Regions from separate parts of the Homo sapiens genome. Here region 1 is linked to region 2. Evidence: fine-mapped expression QTL. A gene starts in region 2. The other region holds a variant in brackets. All regions are shown on one strand. Distances are from middle to middle. Region 1 holds the start of C9orf50 (chromosome 9 open reading frame 50). Region 2 holds the start of ASB6 (ankyrin repeat and SOCS box containing 6).

The links. PIP is the estimated chance that this variant, and not a neighbour inherited with it, causes the effect.
Region 1: its variant is fine-mapped to the expression of ASB6 in monocytes (Fairfax 2014, PIP 0.95). The same link has a PIP of 0.9 or more in B cells.

What each region holds. Positions count from the first base shown.
Region 1 is chr9:129,614,960-129,623,260 of GRCh38, forward strand. It overlaps C9orf50 (chromosome 9 open reading frame 50), which reads right to left and starts at 6,142. Exons shown (of 7, transcript NM_199350.4): 1 at 5,108-6,142; 2 at 4,781-4,871; 3 at 4,561-4,677; 4 at 525-688. The coding sequence starts at 5,615. It also overlaps a transcript of NTMT1 not described here. RefSeq lists an enhancer at 5,604-6,254. The variant C/T (reference allele first, on the strand shown) is at 4,275.
Region 2 is chr9:129,638,081-129,646,403 of GRCh38, forward strand. ASB6 (ankyrin repeat and SOCS box containing 6) reads right to left here and starts at 4,071. Exons shown (of 6, transcript NM_017873.4): 1 at 3,807-4,071; 2 at 2,461-2,642; 3 at 1,322-1,428; 4 at 1,122-1,230; 5 at 493-579; 6 at 1-377. The coding sequence starts at 3,919. RefSeq lists enhancers at 2,017-2,574, 2,575-3,131 and a silencer at 3,838-4,437.

The DNA.
Region 1 (8,301 bases), 23 kb before region 2:
CCAGGGTCTGGTGGCTCTTAGCTTCCTTGCTGGACCTGGCAGTGCCAACTGTCTCCAGGAGAGAGAAAGTTTCCGCTTCGCGGCTTTTCTGGGCACCTCCTCAGGCAGGCTTCGAGGTCTGCCTTCATGGATGTCAAAGGAAGATGCTTCCAATGGCATCTGGACCTCCTCCAGCCCCTGTAGGCTGTGGGGACTGCGGAGGGGAGCAAGTGTGGGCTCTGGAGGCTCCGGCTACGGGTCTCAAGGTGGGCAGATACAGCATATGGGAACCCCTTGGCAGCGAGCAGTCCAAGGTGCTGCCTGCGTTGGAACACCTCCACTGGACTCTGGACCCTCTACTTGGTCTTCGAAGGTCAACCTGACATCCTCCAAGGAGGCCAGTTCAGGCACATCCTCTGCAGGATCACTGATCTCTTGGCCTTTGCAAAGCCAGTCCCTCACTCTAGGGGCCCGGAGCTACAGCCTCTCTGCCCTCCTGGCTAGAACTTTCGGGAGTCTCGAGGCTCCCCATCCTGTCTGCTTACCTGAGCGTCTGCGCTCCCAGTAGCGGAGCGTTGTGTCCTGCAGGGTCTCGTCAGCGAATCGCACCCGGAAAGGGCAACGCTGCCTGCAGGGCCTAGAGCCTTCCCCCGAGGGGTTGTGGGTCAGCGCAGCCTTGAGCCTGGGGACCTGTGCACCGTGGGGCCTGCTGAGAGAGGGGAGAGGGGCCTGTGCTCGAAGCCCCCCACCGTACCCCAGCACACACGCACCAGCCCCAGACTCGCTGTGAGATCCTGGACAAGTGCCCTACACTGGTCTTGAAGAATGGATAACGCCAATCACAGCAGCCGGCCTTAACGGAGCACTTCCTACCTGCCAGGCAGGCTCAAGCACGCACATACACCAACCCACCAAATGCACACAGTCCCCATGAAACGCTGTTATCATTCTCATTTTATAGTTGAGGAAACAGAGGCACAGAGACTATTCCAAGGCGATGCAGCTGTCAGGCATGGAGCCAAGACCTGCATCCTGGTTCCAGAGCTGGCGCCCTCGCACGTAAAGCAATTTAGCAGAGAGAATAAGAATGCCAGCCCAGGAGTCATGCAGTCCTGGGTTTCATTCCTGACCCTTTTGAGCCTCAGTTTTCTTGTCTGTAAAATGGGAATCATTGTGCCCACCCTACAGGGTTGTGAAGAAAGGAAATGGGCCGTACAAGCATCCAGCCCAGGGTCTGCAGGACCCAGAGGAAACATCACTAACAGGGAGCTGTTTTTTGTTTTTGTTTTGTTTTTGAGACAGATTCTCGCTCTGTGGCTCAGGCTGGAGTGCAGTGGTGCCATCTCGGCTCATTGCAAGCTCCGCCTCCCGGGTTCACGCCATTCTCCTGCCTCAGCCTCCCGAGTAGCTGGGACTACAGGCGTGTGCCACCACGCCCGGCTAATTTTTGTATTTTTAGTAGAAACGGGGTTTCACCTTATTGGCCAGGGTGGTCCCGAACGCCTGACCTCAAGTGATCCACCCCCCTTCGCCTTCCTAAGTGCTGGGATCACAGGCATGAGCCACCGCCCGCCCGCCTGCCTGAGCTGTTCTTATTGTAACTGTCTATCTCAATCATGCCCCATCCCAGCCACGTGGCCTTTGGTAGACTGTCTCCAAGTCTCCATTCTGCAGGTTTTTTTCCCTTTAAATTATAGGCACAATAATACCATCCTCCTGGGTTTGGTGAGTATCAAATGATTTACATGAGGCATGTAGGACGTGGCCTGGCACAGGGTTTGGCCTTAATCAAGGGTATCTGTTATATGTATATTTCATAGATAACATTGTTCCATTTATTGTTATTAATTTCAGCCTCAACCCGGTGTGGTGGCTCACGCCTGTAATCCCAGCACTTTGGGAGGCAGGCAGATCAAAAGGTCAAGAGATCCAGACCATCCTGGCCAACATGGTGAAACCCCCGTCTCTACCAAAAATACAAAAAAATTAGCTGGGCACGGTGGCGTGCGCCTGTAGTTCCAGTTACTCGAGAGGTTGAGAATCACTTGAACCCAGGAGGTAGAGGTTGCAGTGAGCCGAGATCGTGCCACTGCACTCCAGCCTAGGGACGGAGTGAGACTTCGTCTCAAAAAAAAAGAAAAAAAAAATCAGCCTCAAGGGCAAGGCTGCGGGAAGGCCTGCTTGACCCACCTATAACTCTGTTATGGAGGAAGGTCATGGCTGACCGTTAGTATGCACATAGTTATATGTCTGCATCCATTCATCTGACCACATCTGTATGTCTGTGTAGATGCAGAGGGAATGCTTTTCATCAGCCTCCAAAGAGCCAAGCAGTTGGGAGGTGTCAGGACAGTGCCTGGCTACATGCCTTGGGACCTAGTCATCTAACAGTTGTCTGCTCAGGAACCCCTGCTCTCTGCTGGCTGCTGGGCCAGGCAAAGGCATAACCCAGCTCTGCCCACCTGCCTGAAATCTCAGCATCTTCACTCGAGGGCCACTGGAGCCTGTTCTGAGGCACCACAGTGTCCCCTGCAGGGCCTACCAGGGAATCTCACACACAGTAAGGTGCTCAAGTATTTGCTCTTGAATGTGAAAGTCTGTAACTGTGTTTGTCTCTGCTTTTGCTCACATTTGAGAGAATGAATTCCATACTTTTATTTATTTGTATCTTGTGAGAAGTCATGTGTATATTTGGCCTGATTGGTTGAACGTTCTGAGGTTGGTAAATGTGTTTCACTGTTTTTGTTTGTTTGTTTGTTTTTTGAGACAGGGTCTTGCTCTGTCACCCAGGCTGGAGTGCAGTGGCACGATCTTGGCTCACTGCAGCCTCAACCTCCCAGGCTCAAGCAATCCTCCCACCTCAGCCTCCCGAGTAGCTGGAACCACAGGCATGCACCACCACGCCCAGCTAATTTTTGTAATTTTTGTAGAGACAGGGTTTCACCATGTTACCAAGGCTGGTCTCAAACTCCTGGGCTCAAGCGATCCTCCTGCCTCAGCCTCCCAAAGCACTGGGATTATAGGCATGAGCCACCATGCTTGGCCATGTGTTCCATTTCTAGTTCCTACCCTGATCCATCAGGAGTATCTACCTAGAGTACTGTGTGAGGAATGGTTCTGAGGCTCAGTGGGGAAATATGATCCATTAGTTTTGTCTGCTGTGGGTATGAGATGAGGAAGAATGATATGTTTGTGATGTATTTACTCTCCCTGGTCTTTAAACTCATGGGCAGTGCCATTCACCCTTCACCCCTGCTTAAGCCTGGAGGAATTTTAACCTGGAGGAACTGTTTCTGTCTTCTTTTCCTCCTCTGTTAAAACTATGGTGTCTAGGCCCAGGTAGGTTCCAATTCCTAGGCTCTTCTCTTACCTCCATCCCTTAGTTTTCTCCCAATATTCAACATATAGTAAAACCTAATAAAAGTTAGAGTAAGAAATGGACAAATGATGGTGGGATGGGTAAAATGATGGAAGACTGGGTGGGTGGGTTGATGGGTGGATGGACTGATGGGTGAGTTAATGAAAGGGTCTGAATAGAACTGAACTATGAATGTATGGGTAGATGGACAGATGCGTGGCTGGATGATTATGTAGATGGGTATGTAGGTTTGTGGATGGCTTTATGACTAGATTAGCGATGGACAGTGTCCTGGGTTTACAAGTGGATGGAAGGATTTGTAGATGGTTGGTCATTGGATCAATGGATGGATGGATAGAAGTGTGGGAGTTTTATTTTTTATTTATTTTATTTTATTTTATTTCATTTTTATTTGAGATGGAGTCTCACTCTGTCACCCAGGCTGGAGTGCAATGGCACAATCTCAGCTCACTGCAAGCTCCGCCTCCCGGGTTCACACCATTCTCTCGCCTCAGCCTCCCGAGTAGCTGGGACTACAGGCGCCCGCCACCACGCCCGGCTAATTTTTTGTGTTTTTTTTTTTTTTTTTGTATATTTTTAGTAGAGACGGGGTTTCACCGTGTTATCCAGGGTGGTCTCAATCTCCTAACCTCGTGATCCGCCCACCTCAGCCTCCCAAAGTGCTGGGATTACAGGTGTGAGCCACCGTGCCCTGCCGAAGTGTGGGAGTTTTAGATGGATGACTGGCTAGCTGGTTGGCCAGGTAGATGAATGGATCCACAGGACACCTGATTCATGGGTGGGTGGGTGAGTGAATGTATGGATGGATGGAGTCATGGGTCCATGATAGATTAATGGGTGGACAGAAGGATGGATGGATAGATGGAGAGATTCATGAACGGGTTGTAGAAGACTTGGTTCATGGATGAGATGGATG[C/T]AAAGATGGATGGGTGAATGGGAAAATGAATATATGAATAGATTCATGGATGAATTATGTGTTGGTAGAAGACCTCATTAATGGATGGGTTGATTCATTGATGAACTGGCGAATGAATCTTGAATGGGTTGGTAGAAGATCTGATTCACGGACAGCCATATGTAAGGATGGATGAATGGGTAGATAGGTGGATAAATGAATACATTCATGGGCGAAAGAGGAAAGAAAGAAGGAAAGAAATGCCCCTTTCCTCCACTACCCTACCCTTATCCCGCCCATCACTCACTGGTTGGCCTTTCTGACAGTGGTGAATTGTGAGTGATCACCCTTCAGGGGCCCCAGAATAGGTGTCTGCTGGAGCGAAATCTTCGTAAGACTATCCTGGAGGTGCGATGACTGGCCCCTTAAAGACAAACAGGCCACATCTGGCATGAGTGGCCAGGCTGTCCCGCCCTGGAAACATCGATGGCAACCCCGTCCCCACCAAGAAGCGGACTGACGCTTACCACAGGTCTGGGAGGAATGAACAGTTGGGACACCGCGGAGACCCTGGGCAGTGCTCTAATACACCCCTTTGATGTTGCGGTGCTGGGGATGCTGGAGCCAGGAGGAAACAGTTGTGAGCCTTGGCTGGGGGACGGTCCTTTCTAGTCATGTGGCCTCGGGGTGATGGCAGACCAGCCCTCAAGGACGGGTTGCGAGGGCTCTGAGATACTCAGCTAACATTAGCATCCTTCTAGCCTGGGTGGTGGGGTGGTGGGTGCGGGGACACAAGGGACCACCCCCCACCGGAAATGACTCGGGCCCGCCCCCCGGGCCCCGCGGGGCCTCACTCAGTGGCTCCGGCTCCTCGGCGCACTTCTCCTGGAGCTGGTGCAGGAACTCACGGAACCTGCTGGGGAGGAGCTCTCCTAGGAAGGCGCCCAAGAAGTCGGGGTCCTCCCTGGCCACGCGCCTCCGGGGGCGCTCGCGCTCTCCAGGCCCTGGCTGCCTGGGCGCCGATTCCCGGGACGCGCCGGCCGACAGCAGGGGAGGCGGCAGCAGGGACCGCAGCAGCCCCCGCTTCCGCACGGCCCGCCGGGTCGCGGTGAGCAAGGCGGGCAGGCGCGGCGGGAGGCGTCCGACGCCCACCCCGGGCTTGGCGTCCCCTTCCGGCCACCACGCGGCGCCGCCCCCCGGGATCCTCCAGTCCCCGGAGCCCCGCGCGCCCAGAGCCGCTCGGAGCGCGGGCGGGGTCAGCTTGGGCAGCCGCGGGTCGCTGCTGCGTCGGAAGTCTCCGTCGCCAGGGAGCCCCTTGGGCGCCAGGTCCTGGGCCCCTGGGCGAAGTCGACGCCAGAACATGCTTGGCCCCGCACTCAGCTCACCGCACCCTCAGCGCGCGTGGGTGGGGGGCGCCGGCTGAGGTGGGGAGGGCATAGTCCAGCCCCAGGCCATAGTGCCCCGGGCGGGGCAGCGCGGTGCGGGGTGAACGCCACCGGCCCGGCGGACAGCGAGTGGCTTCAGGCGAGAGCTCCCAGAGCCTCTGTTTCCTCACCTGAAAAATGGTGACAGCAAGAGTAGCCAACTTTGGGGGTTGCTGTGACGTTTAAATGAGCAAGTACATGCCAGTCTTAGAACAGCAAGCTCGGTACAGTGCCAGGCACGCTGGCCAAGCTTACACATAGACTAGCTGCCATTCTTAGTATTTCAAAGTTATTATTATTTAGGATTTAGTCCCAGCTCCACCACTTATTAGCTTTGTAACCTTGGCCAAGCCAATTAACTTCCCTCTGCCTTCCCTGGGGGCTCTGGTCTGCAGAATGGGGATAATAGCAGCACCTGCCTCTCTGCAGCCGTGAAACGGCATCACCGCATCACCGCTGGTAGAGAGAGCACTTAGCCTGCCTTGCAGTGTTCAAAGCGTGGAACTGTTACCGTCATTAGCGCTCTACTGGGAATTAGGAAACCTGGAACCAGCTTGAGGGAAGAGAGACCTGACCAGCAGCCTCCCAGCCCTGGTGCTGCCTCAGAGACCCCTGGGTGGGGAGCCTGTTGAAAATACAGATGACTTACCCCCAGCCCCCATTCTGATTCAGTACGTCTCTGCTGGAGCCAAGACAGTTTGTTGTTCTTGTTGTTGTTGTTAAAGAGATGGGGTCTTGCTAAGACGGGGTCCTGCTGTCACCCAGGCTGGAGTGCAATGGCACCATCATAGCTCACTGCAGCCTCAAATTCTTGGGCTCAAGTGATCCTCCTGCCTCAGCCTCCTGAGTAGCTGGGACTACAGGCACACACCACCACAGTTGGCTAATTTTTGTATATTTTGTAGAAATGGGGTAGAATTTTTTTGTATTTATGTTGCACGGGCTGGTCTTGAACTCCTGGGCTCAAGTGATCCACTTGCCTTGGCCTCCCAAAGTGCTGGGATCACAGGCGTGAGTCCCCACTTCTGGCCAAGACACAGACTTTTAACAAACTCCCCCTTTGGGAGGCAGAGCCCCAGTCTTACTCCCAGCTCTGACACTGAGGGGTTTCTAAGCCTGCTTCCTCCCAACCACACCCCACTCCCAGATTGTTGTCAGCTCTGAGCTGACTCCTGGGCAGTGTCACACTCACCCTGGTGGGCTTCTGGGTGGGGCCCTAGAAGGTCCTGTGAGTTTAGAGCTCTCTACAGGCAGGCTGTAGAGCCCATCATCCCTGCCTGGTGCCTCTCCCAGCCCCTCCCGGCTGCCTCTGGGCCGCTTCAGGGTCATTGTGATCCGCCCCTCACCCCTGGGCATCTGAGTAGCAGTGGGCACTGAGGCCTGGGGACTAAGGGTGGGGCTATTGTGCCCTGGATGCCCTGGCCGCAGCCACCTGGGGCACTGGGACTCTGACCAGGGCAGCCAGGCCTACCCTTTCCAGATCTGGGAGGCTTAGGCTGGGTGGCTCTGGAAGTAGAACTTCCACCCCAAGACCAGGCAGTCAGAATACAATGGACCTAGAAATGAACAGACCCTGCGGGGCACGGTGTCTCACGCCTGTAATCCCAGCACTTTGGGAGGCCGAGGCGGGCGGATCACCTGAGGTCAGAAGTTCAATACCAGCCTGGCCAACATGGTGAAACCTCGTCTCTACAAAAAATACCAAAATTTGCCATGCATGGTGTTGTGCACCTATAATCCCAGCTACTTGGGAGGCTGAGACAGGAGAATCGCTTGACCCTGGGAGGCGGAGGTTGCAGTGAGCTGAGATCATGCCACTGCACTCCAGCCTGGGTGACAAAGCGAGACTCCATCTCAAAAATAATAATAATAATAATCCAAGGTCTGGGTGCTAGGTGTGCTTCTTGCTATTGAGATGTCATTTCTTTCAGGCAGTCTCAGCTGACAAAGAAATGTGTGTGTATACTATGAAACACACACATATCTATAAATATTTCTATAGGTAACCATCTGTACTTATATTAAGCTAAACATGAGCTCATGCTGACATCTCCAACTCTAATCCGTTACACAGATCATTTGAGACTCTGTCTCACAAAAAAAAAAGAGGCCAGGTTCCAGTGGCTCATACCTGTAATCCTAACACTTTGGGAGACCGAGGCAGGTGGATTGCCTGAGCTCAGGAGTTCGCAATCAGCCTGGGCCACATGGTGAAACCCCGTCTCTACTAAAATACAAAAAAATTAGCCGGGCGTGACAGCGTGTGCCTGTAGTCCCAGCTACTTGGGGGGCTGAGGTAGGAGAATTGCTTGAACCCGGGAGGCGGAGGTTGCAGTGAGCCGAGATCACGCCACTGCACTCCAGCCTGGGCAACAGAGTGAGACTCCATCTCCATAAAAAAAAAAAGAAAGAAAGAGCCGGGCACGGTGGCTCACGCCTGTAATCCCAGCACTTTGAGAGGACAAGGCGGGTGGATCATGAGGTCAGGAGATCGAGACCATCCTGGCTAACACGGTGAAACCCTGTCTCTACTAAAAATACAAAAAATTAGCTGGTTGTGGTGACGGGTACCTGTAATCCCAGCTACGCGGGAGGCTGAGGCAGGAGAATGGCGTGAACCCAGG
Region 2 (8,323 bases):
TTTGCGCAGGAGGTCCGCATGGCTCTCGTCTTCCGTGCAGCCTGGGTGGGAACAGAGCCTCTCAAAGATGATGTGAAAGCCAGACCAGCAGGACGCACCGTGCAGGGAGCAGTTGTAGGCGGCTCCGGACTCCAGGAGGAAGCGCAGGAGAGGGAAGTGCAGTTTAAAGCTCTTCAGGCAGATGTGGGTGAGGGACTCGTGGGCTGGGCACTCGCTGGGGTCGGCCCCGTGTGCCAGCAGCAGCCGTGTGACTTGGAAGCAGAAGCGGTTGATCATCTGGGCCTCCTCTTTGTCCCCTCCCACGGTCTCACCAAGCAGGAAGATGATGCAGGTGAACACTGTGTCCCCATCTTTGGTGGTGGCCTTGACGTCTGCCCCTAGAAGAGCCATAGAACAAGAGATGCTGGGAGAAGGCCTTCAACCCTGGCAAAGCAACAGCACACATCGAAGGGGCGGGTGAGAGGACGAGGCCTAGGAGCGCGCCAGCCTCACCTCCTTCCAGTAAGAGACGAATGTTCTCAGTATTGTGGATCTGCACCCCGTCGCTGCTGGCCAGAGCATGGAGCAGAGCAGTTTTTCCTAGGGAGGGAGGGAGAGCAAGGAGGAGCAGGAGGCCAGGAAGCCCAGGTCAGGGCAACCCAGAGGAGGTGGCAGAAATCCAGACACTCAGAGGATCAGAAGATGAACTTTCAGAGACAACTCTCAGCTCAGGTGAGGGCTGAGGGTGACAGGCTTCTGGCCATTCCCTTTCCACCCAGAGAAGTGGGAGCGGAAAGGCCAGGAAAGGTAGGATTTTTCTGGACCCCAAGATGCTACCTGAGATGTTGGCTGGGCCTCTCCCAATGGGAAGCCATTGTTTCTTGGAAACTAAGTGCACACATGCCCTATTTCTTCCTATAGAAGGCCCTTGAGGGCCAGCACAGGGACAATGACTGCACTGCCTCTCTGAAGCCTCTGAGCTCAGCAAGTCAGCAGAATCCCTGTGTGCCCAGCCATGCTGTGCCACCAGCCAGGGCCAGCATCCAGTCTGCCCACCTAGCTGTTGTCCTGGGGCACCCTGGGTGTCCCCCACAAGGTGCCTGGGGGCCCAGCTGTCCTGCTTTCCTGCAGGAGGCACCCACCATGCTTGTCAGCGGCATTGACATCAGCTCCAAGGTCCAGGAGGCGCTGCAGGCAGGGCAGGCGCTCAGGCTCCTCGCTGGCCAGGTCCAAGGGGCTACTCTCGTGGATCTGAGCCAAGGAAGCACAGCCAGGTTGGCTTGGGAAGCTGCTCAGGCCCCTGCCCAACCCTGCTTCAAAGCAAGCTGGACCTGGCACTTACCCGGTCCCTCCGATTAACGTCGGCCCCGTGATGCACCAGCAGCTCCACCATGTCCGGCTGGTTCCGCAGGACGGCGATGTGCAAGGCCGTGTAGTAGGTGACTGGGTCTGAAGGTGCAGACACAGCTCATGTGGGTCCTATCTGTCCGCATTCTTATGGGGCCCCCGGACCCAGAGCCCAGCCCCAAACTCCCACCTAAAGTGTCCAGAAGCACAGGCCCAGCCTCCTGTCACCATCAAGGGTTAGGACAGAGCTGTCCTCACCAGATACTAGAGGGCCCTCGGGGTGTTCTAGTGGGCACGCTACTGAAGCTGTTGGGGGCTTTAGTTTCCTCTTCTGTAAGAAGGGACCATAAAACGGGGCGCACCCTCTCAGAATGGCTGGGAGGCCGCGCTACACAGCAGCTCTGGCGGCTCTGCTTTGTAGGCCTGGTGGTAACAGCCAGGTTCTCCAAGCTGGTCTCCAAGTCACTGGCTTCAGAACCGGCCCTCCCGTCTCAGCTCCTTGACCCTCCAGGAGCCCAGCAGACTCCAAGCCCGTCTTCGGATGGGGAAAGGAGACGTGCCTGGCTGTCTCAGGCCCCTATTAGGTCACAAGGCAGCCCTGCCTGTCTGCCGACTAACCCTGCCCTCCCTGGGCTGAAAAACACAGAGAAAGGAGCTCGGCTCCATCTCCATCCCTGGCACTCAGGAGCCAGGAGCCAGGGTGTCCTGTGGTGATTTATGCCTAATGCAGCCTGTTTTCCCCTCTCCCTACGGCATGAGAAAAAAAAAAACAAATTGGCTCAGAGTAAGTAGCAGAAAATTACCTTCCCTTAGCTCTGGGCACAGTGCCAGCAGCCGCATTTTTGCATTAATGGAAGTGGGGATTAATCTGGGAGCTGGGGAAAGTTTGCTAATCAATCACATGGTAGAAGCAGCAACACTCGCTCTTGGAACAGAGGTGGGAAGAGCCATGTGAAAACCCGCAGGGGGTGGGAGGCCACCCAATGGGAGTTTCCTTAGTTGCAGCCACCCAGGAAATAAAGGGGGGGAAGTCACTCCTCAGAGGATGGTAGAAGCCAAGGCTGGGGACATGGGCGCCCACCCAGCGTCGGGCCGCGTTTAAGCCACCTGCCCACCCCCGGGGCTCTCGCTGACCTTCAAAGTTGAGATTGGCCCCATGCCGCAAGAGAACGTCGGCCGCCCGCGTCAGCCCCAGCTCAGCCATCTTGAGCAGGGCGTTGCTCACGCCTTCCTGGTAAAAGGGAGAGTGGGCTTTCCTCTCCAGCAGCTCAGTGAGAACAAGGATTCGGCTCTCCTCGCTGGCGACATAACTGGGCCTGGGACAGGAGAGAGGCTGAGGGTAGGCACAGCTGTGGGACCGGGTGACCGCGCAGCCTGTGGGTTGGTGGGCTTTAGTCCTGCTATCATCATCAGCAAGCAGGGCCCTGGCTCTGTGGGTCACAGGGGCTTGGGGGAAGCTCTGAAGTAGAGAGAGGGCCACGCTGCATCTCTTAATACGGGAGCAGACTGGGATTTGCGGAGAATGGGCTGGGTCTGTCTGCGCTCTCCTCCCGCGTTGCCCAGAGTCCGGTCGCAGACTTAGGTACAAAGCCTCACACACCTGGGCTGCTGGGACTGAAGGGACCACCAGCCTGGAGGCCAAGAGCCCAAGCCCGACTTTGATGCTTCTTCCTCAGAAAGCCCTTCCATCCTCAAACCCGCAGGACCCCAGCCCCGGCAACACCTGCAGCCAGGACAGCAACACAGCCTCCTCCCTCCCCTCACATTGAGACCTTCAGCTGATATTGATGAAGAAAGCCTACGTTTCCACCAGAGTCCCTGGATGGCGAGACTCATCATTACCACGTGTTGGAAATACCAACTGACAACCCCCTCAACACCTGAGCCGAGCCCCTTCCTTCTGCTCTCCCCTCCCTTCCACCTCGCGTGCCGCCGTACAATTACTTGTCAGTCTCTCCTCTGGAGCACATGCGCCAAGAAGGCGGGGGTTTTGCTGAGCCACTGATGGACCCCAGGTGCCTAGTACCATGGGCAGTGAATGCAGATTCGCTCCCGACCCCTTTCCTGCAGGTCCACGACAGACCAGCTCTTGTCTATAAAAACGCAAACTCTGCTACAAAAGCCCACCTTCACACTGCTCTGGGGTAACATCTGAGGCCTCACGGATTCCACCCTGCTCCTCTGCCACGCCGGGGGGTGGCACAGGACAGGCAGGCGACAGGGTGGGGCTGAGGCGCAGGCCCTGCGACAACCCGCGGGCCTCCGCCCTCGGGCCCTCCCCGCCCTTCGTCTCCGCCATGCAAGGGGCAGGAGTGGGATCCGCGCGGGGCAGCGCGCACTCCGAGCCACGCAACCCCGGCTTCCGCCCGTCCCTTCCTCTGTCAAGGGGGACGCATCCACCCCGCCCGGCTTGTGGTGATAAAGTGGGACGCTGCGGGGTCGGAGCGGCCTCGGCCAGCTCACGGGAGGGGGTGAGTTACCGGTCCAGAGACTCCTGCCGCTCGGGGTCCTGGATCCCCAGGGAGCCCAGAATCGCATCCACCAGCGGCTGGTACTCGAAGATGATCCTCCGGAAGCCGTGCAGGAACGGCATCGCCGCGGGCCCCGCGCAGCAGGGCCGTCGCGCTTTCTGCCGAGGCCGAGATGCCCAGACGCCGACCGGAACGCTCCGGCGGCCGCGGACCCCACCTGCTCCGCCAGTCCAGCCCCTGCGCCCGGCCGGGTCCGCTCCTCAGTCCAAGCCGCGCCCCCGCCGGAAGTGACCCTCGTACTTCCTGCCCGCGCCGACTCAGGGTGGGCCATATGGCGACAGCGCCCCCTGCGGGCTCGGAGGACCTCGGCGCGTCCTGGGGCACGACCGCCAGGCCGACTCGGGCGATGTCCAGTGGGCGGCCCCAGCGGAGTGGGAGAGTGGAGGATCGAGCCAAGCCAGATCCGAGACTCAGGCGGGTCCGCCCCTTCCTGCCAGGGCCCGGCCCGGCTCGGCTTCGCCCTGCGATCCCGCCCGCGACCGCTGGGCGCCGTCCGAGTTCCGCCGGTCGTGCTCTCGGCCCTGCCGCTGCCCCACTGGCCCTGGGCGCCCCTGAGAGCTGTGGTCATCAGACACTGCCCCTTCCGGTTCGGGCTGGCCCTCGCCTTCCCTGAAGAGGGGCTGGGCCACCTCTGTCACCACCCGGCCCGCTGACTGGAATGATGAGGACCAGGGTACTCGCACGTCCCCTCCTCAGTTTCTTATTCTCTGTCCCGGGGAGCACCTGGCCAGGACGGCTGCTAGCCCTCTCCACCTCTGCCTTGATGGACTCAGTGAATCTTGTTTTTTGTTGTTGTTGTTTTTGTTTTTTTGGGGGACGTAGTCTCGCTCTGTTGCCCAGGCTGGAGTGCAATGGCACGATCTCGGCTCACTGCAACCTCCGCCTCCCGGGTTCAAGCGATTCTCCTGCCTCAGCCTCCCGAGTAGCTGGGATTACAGGCGCTGGCCACCACGCCCAGCTTATTCTTGTATTTTTAGTAGAGACAGGGTTTCACCATATTGGCCAGGCTGGTCTCGAACTCCTGACCTCGTGATCCTCCCACCTCGGCCTCCCAAAGTGCTGGGATTACAGGCATGAGCCACGGTGCCCAGCCCGAATCTTGTGTATTTTTTAGAGACAGGGTCTCACTCTGTCTCCCAGGCTGGAGTGTAGTGTAGTGATCATGACTCACTGCAGCTTTGAACCCCTGGGCTCAGGTGATCCTCCCGCCTCAGCCTCCCGAGAAGCTGGGAACACAGGAGTGTGCTACCGCCTGTCTCTGAACTTGGATTTCCTCATCTGTAAAATGGGTAGAATCCCCAGCACTTTGAGAGGCCGAGGCAGGTGGATCACCTGAGGTCAGAAGTTCGAAGCTGCAGACCGGCCTGGCCAATATGATGAAACCCTGTCTCTACTAAAAATACAAAAATTACCCGGGCGTGGTGGCAGGCGCCTGTAATCCCAGCTACTTGGGAGGCTGAGGCAGGAGAATTGCTTGAACCCGGGAGGCGGAGGTTGCAGTGAGTGGAGATCGCACCATCACACTCCAGCCTGGGCAATAAGAACGAAACTCTGTCTCAAAAAGAAAAAAAAAAAGTATAATCACACTCACCTGAGATGCTGGAGCCAGCGCACTGTAATTGTTGGTGGAAGTGGAATTCAGTGGGAAGGAGCCAAAACCCTCTGGTTCAGGAAGAAGGGGCGGAGTGGGCAGCCGGGTTTAAGCCCCTTTAGGGCAACACCAGCTTGGGCTTCCTAGAAGCAGCTCCAGGCCGCAGAGTCCACAGCTGCCAGCACGTTTCTGCCTTGGTTCTCGCTGTAGGAAAGAAATTTCTCCCTGGGTGAAATCGGGAAATTCTGCTCACATGGAAATGGACATTTCCAGCTTGCCTTGGAAAAACCACTTTTCTGGAGTCGAGGCACCTCCCCTTGGGCCATGCATTTGAGCCTCCTCTCCCACCTGGAGTCTGCGTGGGGGGGCCTTGATGCCTTCTTGCTTCTGGGAAGCTGATGATGAAGAGGGGTTTCCCGCCCCAGCAGTCCACATCACAGCGTTGGCCTCCTGGGCCTTGCTCTGCCAAGTTGGGCCCCTCTCCCTGGAACCTGCCAGACAGCGAGAGTTGCCCAGCCCAGGAAAAAAACATTTAAAGGCGCATTTCAAGACAATCCGATGGGTCTTAGAGTAAACATTTTTATATTTATTTATTTATTATTATTATTATTATTATTTTTCAGACGGAGTCTCACTCTGTTGCCTAAGCTGGAGTGCAGTGGCAGGATCTCGGCTCACTGCAACCTCCAACCCCTGGGTTCAAGCCTACCAGGTAGCTGGAATTACAGGCATGCGCTACCACGCCAGGCTAATTTTTGTATTTTTAGTAGAGACGGGGTTTCACCATGTTGGCCAGGCTATTCTCGAACTCCTGACCTCAGGTGATCCACCCGCCTCAGCCTCCCAAAGTACTGGGCTTACAGACGTGAGCCCACCACGCCCAGCCAGATGAAACATTTTTAAATGGGCAGAGTAAGGCCCTCTACCATGTGCAAAACAAACTGTACAAGAAAACCCAAAGCAACGAGCCTCAACCGGCAAGGTTGAGGGTGTGGCAGCAGCGGCTGGTAACTGCTGGCTCTGGTTGTTAAAGCTGTTGTCAGATCCAATGACAGGCTCTCGGAAAACCACCTCCGACGCCAGGCATTCAGAGTGCCTCAGTTTGCTTCCTCTTCCATTACCTAAAGGAGTAGGAAGGAGGGGTGGGGGTGGGCAGCTGGGTTCAAGACCCTTTAAGGCAACACTAGCTTGGGCGTCCCAGAAGCAACTGCAGACTACGAGGGCCCACGGCTCCCCACACATGTCTGCCTTGATTCTTGCTGAGGGAAAGAAGTATCTTCCTGAGGGAAATCGGGACATTTTGCTCCCAGGGAAATGGAGATTTTCCAACTTGCCTTGTAAAAATCAGAAGGGCCCAGATTCTTACCAGACAGCGATTTGCATCCAGATGGGGTGCTTGCCCTGGGTGCACCTGCCTGGGCATGACTCTGAGCGTTTGGAAGTGTCTGCCCCTGCTTGAAGGGTCCCCCTCAATGGATCGCGAGGCCCTGAACGGTACAGCCGCTCTCAGGCGACCCAGGTCTTCACAGCCCCTCTCTCGTTTGATCACACAACACATTTGATCACGTGACACCATGCCCGTGTTGAGTCAGGCCTCGGTCTCCTCACCTATGTGATGGCCTTTGGCCCTCAACCCTCAGGAGACGGAGGCCTGACTTACCCAAGGGCGCATGGTGAGTAACTGCGGGAGGTGCAGTCCCGTGGGGTCCCGGTGGAGCTGGGTGGGCTGACTTCGTCTGAGCCCTGCTTTTGCCCTAGGGCTGCTATAACAAGGTGCTGCAGACCTGATGGCTTAAAACAACAGAAATTCACTCCTTTACAGTTCTGGAGGCGGAAAGGTCAAATTCAAGGTGTGGGCAGGGCCACGCTCCCTCCAAAGACTCCAGAGAAGGTCCCTTTCTTGCCTCTCCCACTCCTGGTGACCACAGGGGTACCTCGGCTTGGGACAGCAGCACCCCAGTGTCCACCTTCCTCTGTCTCCACACAGCCTTCTTCCTGCTGTCTATGCCACTGTCCAAATCCCCCGCTCCCTTCTTTTTCTTTTTCTTTTTTGTTTTGTGTTTTGAGACAGAGTCTCGCACTGTCGCCAGGCTGGAGTGCAGTGGTGCGCGTGTGCCACCACCCTCAGCTAATTTTTTTTTGTATTTTTAGTAGAGACAGGGTTTCACCATGTTGGCCAGGATGGTCTCGATCTCTTGACCTTGTCATCCGCCCGCCTCTGTCTCCCAAAGTGCTGGGATTATAGGCGTGAGCCACCGTGCCCAGCCTTCCCCCTCCTTTCTAAATGGGCATGGGTCACTGGATTTATAGGGCGCACCCAAATCCATTATGGCCACATCTTAATTTGATTACATCTGCAAAACCCCTTTTTCTGAACGAGGTCACGTTCCAGGCACCAGGACTAGGACTGGAACATATCTTTTTGGGGAGCACACATAAACCCACTGTCACGAGTGACCCTAGGCATGGCCCTTCTGGTCTCTGGGCCTCAGTTTCCTCACCTATAACCTGAGGGCCCTCCCAGCTCTGACAGTCTTGGAGCCAATGACGAACTCCTTGACGTGGCTGGTGGGCTCCGCCGACAGAGAAGGAGTGAGGAGGGGGCCATTATAATAACAACAACACGAGCCCACTTGTATTTACGGAGACCCTTGTACATGCCAGGCACTAGATATGCTGAATGTTTGGTGCACTGATCTCCCTAAATCCTGTTAAGTAGGTGATATTATTACCCCATTTTACAAAGAAACGGGCTCAGAGAGGTTTGGGCGCTTGTCCCAGGCTGCACTGTGAGGTTGGGCCTCCAGCCCCGGTCGGTGCAACTTTTCCACGCTTCCTGCCTCCGAGACTCGAGTGTCCTCAGCTCCTCCAGCTC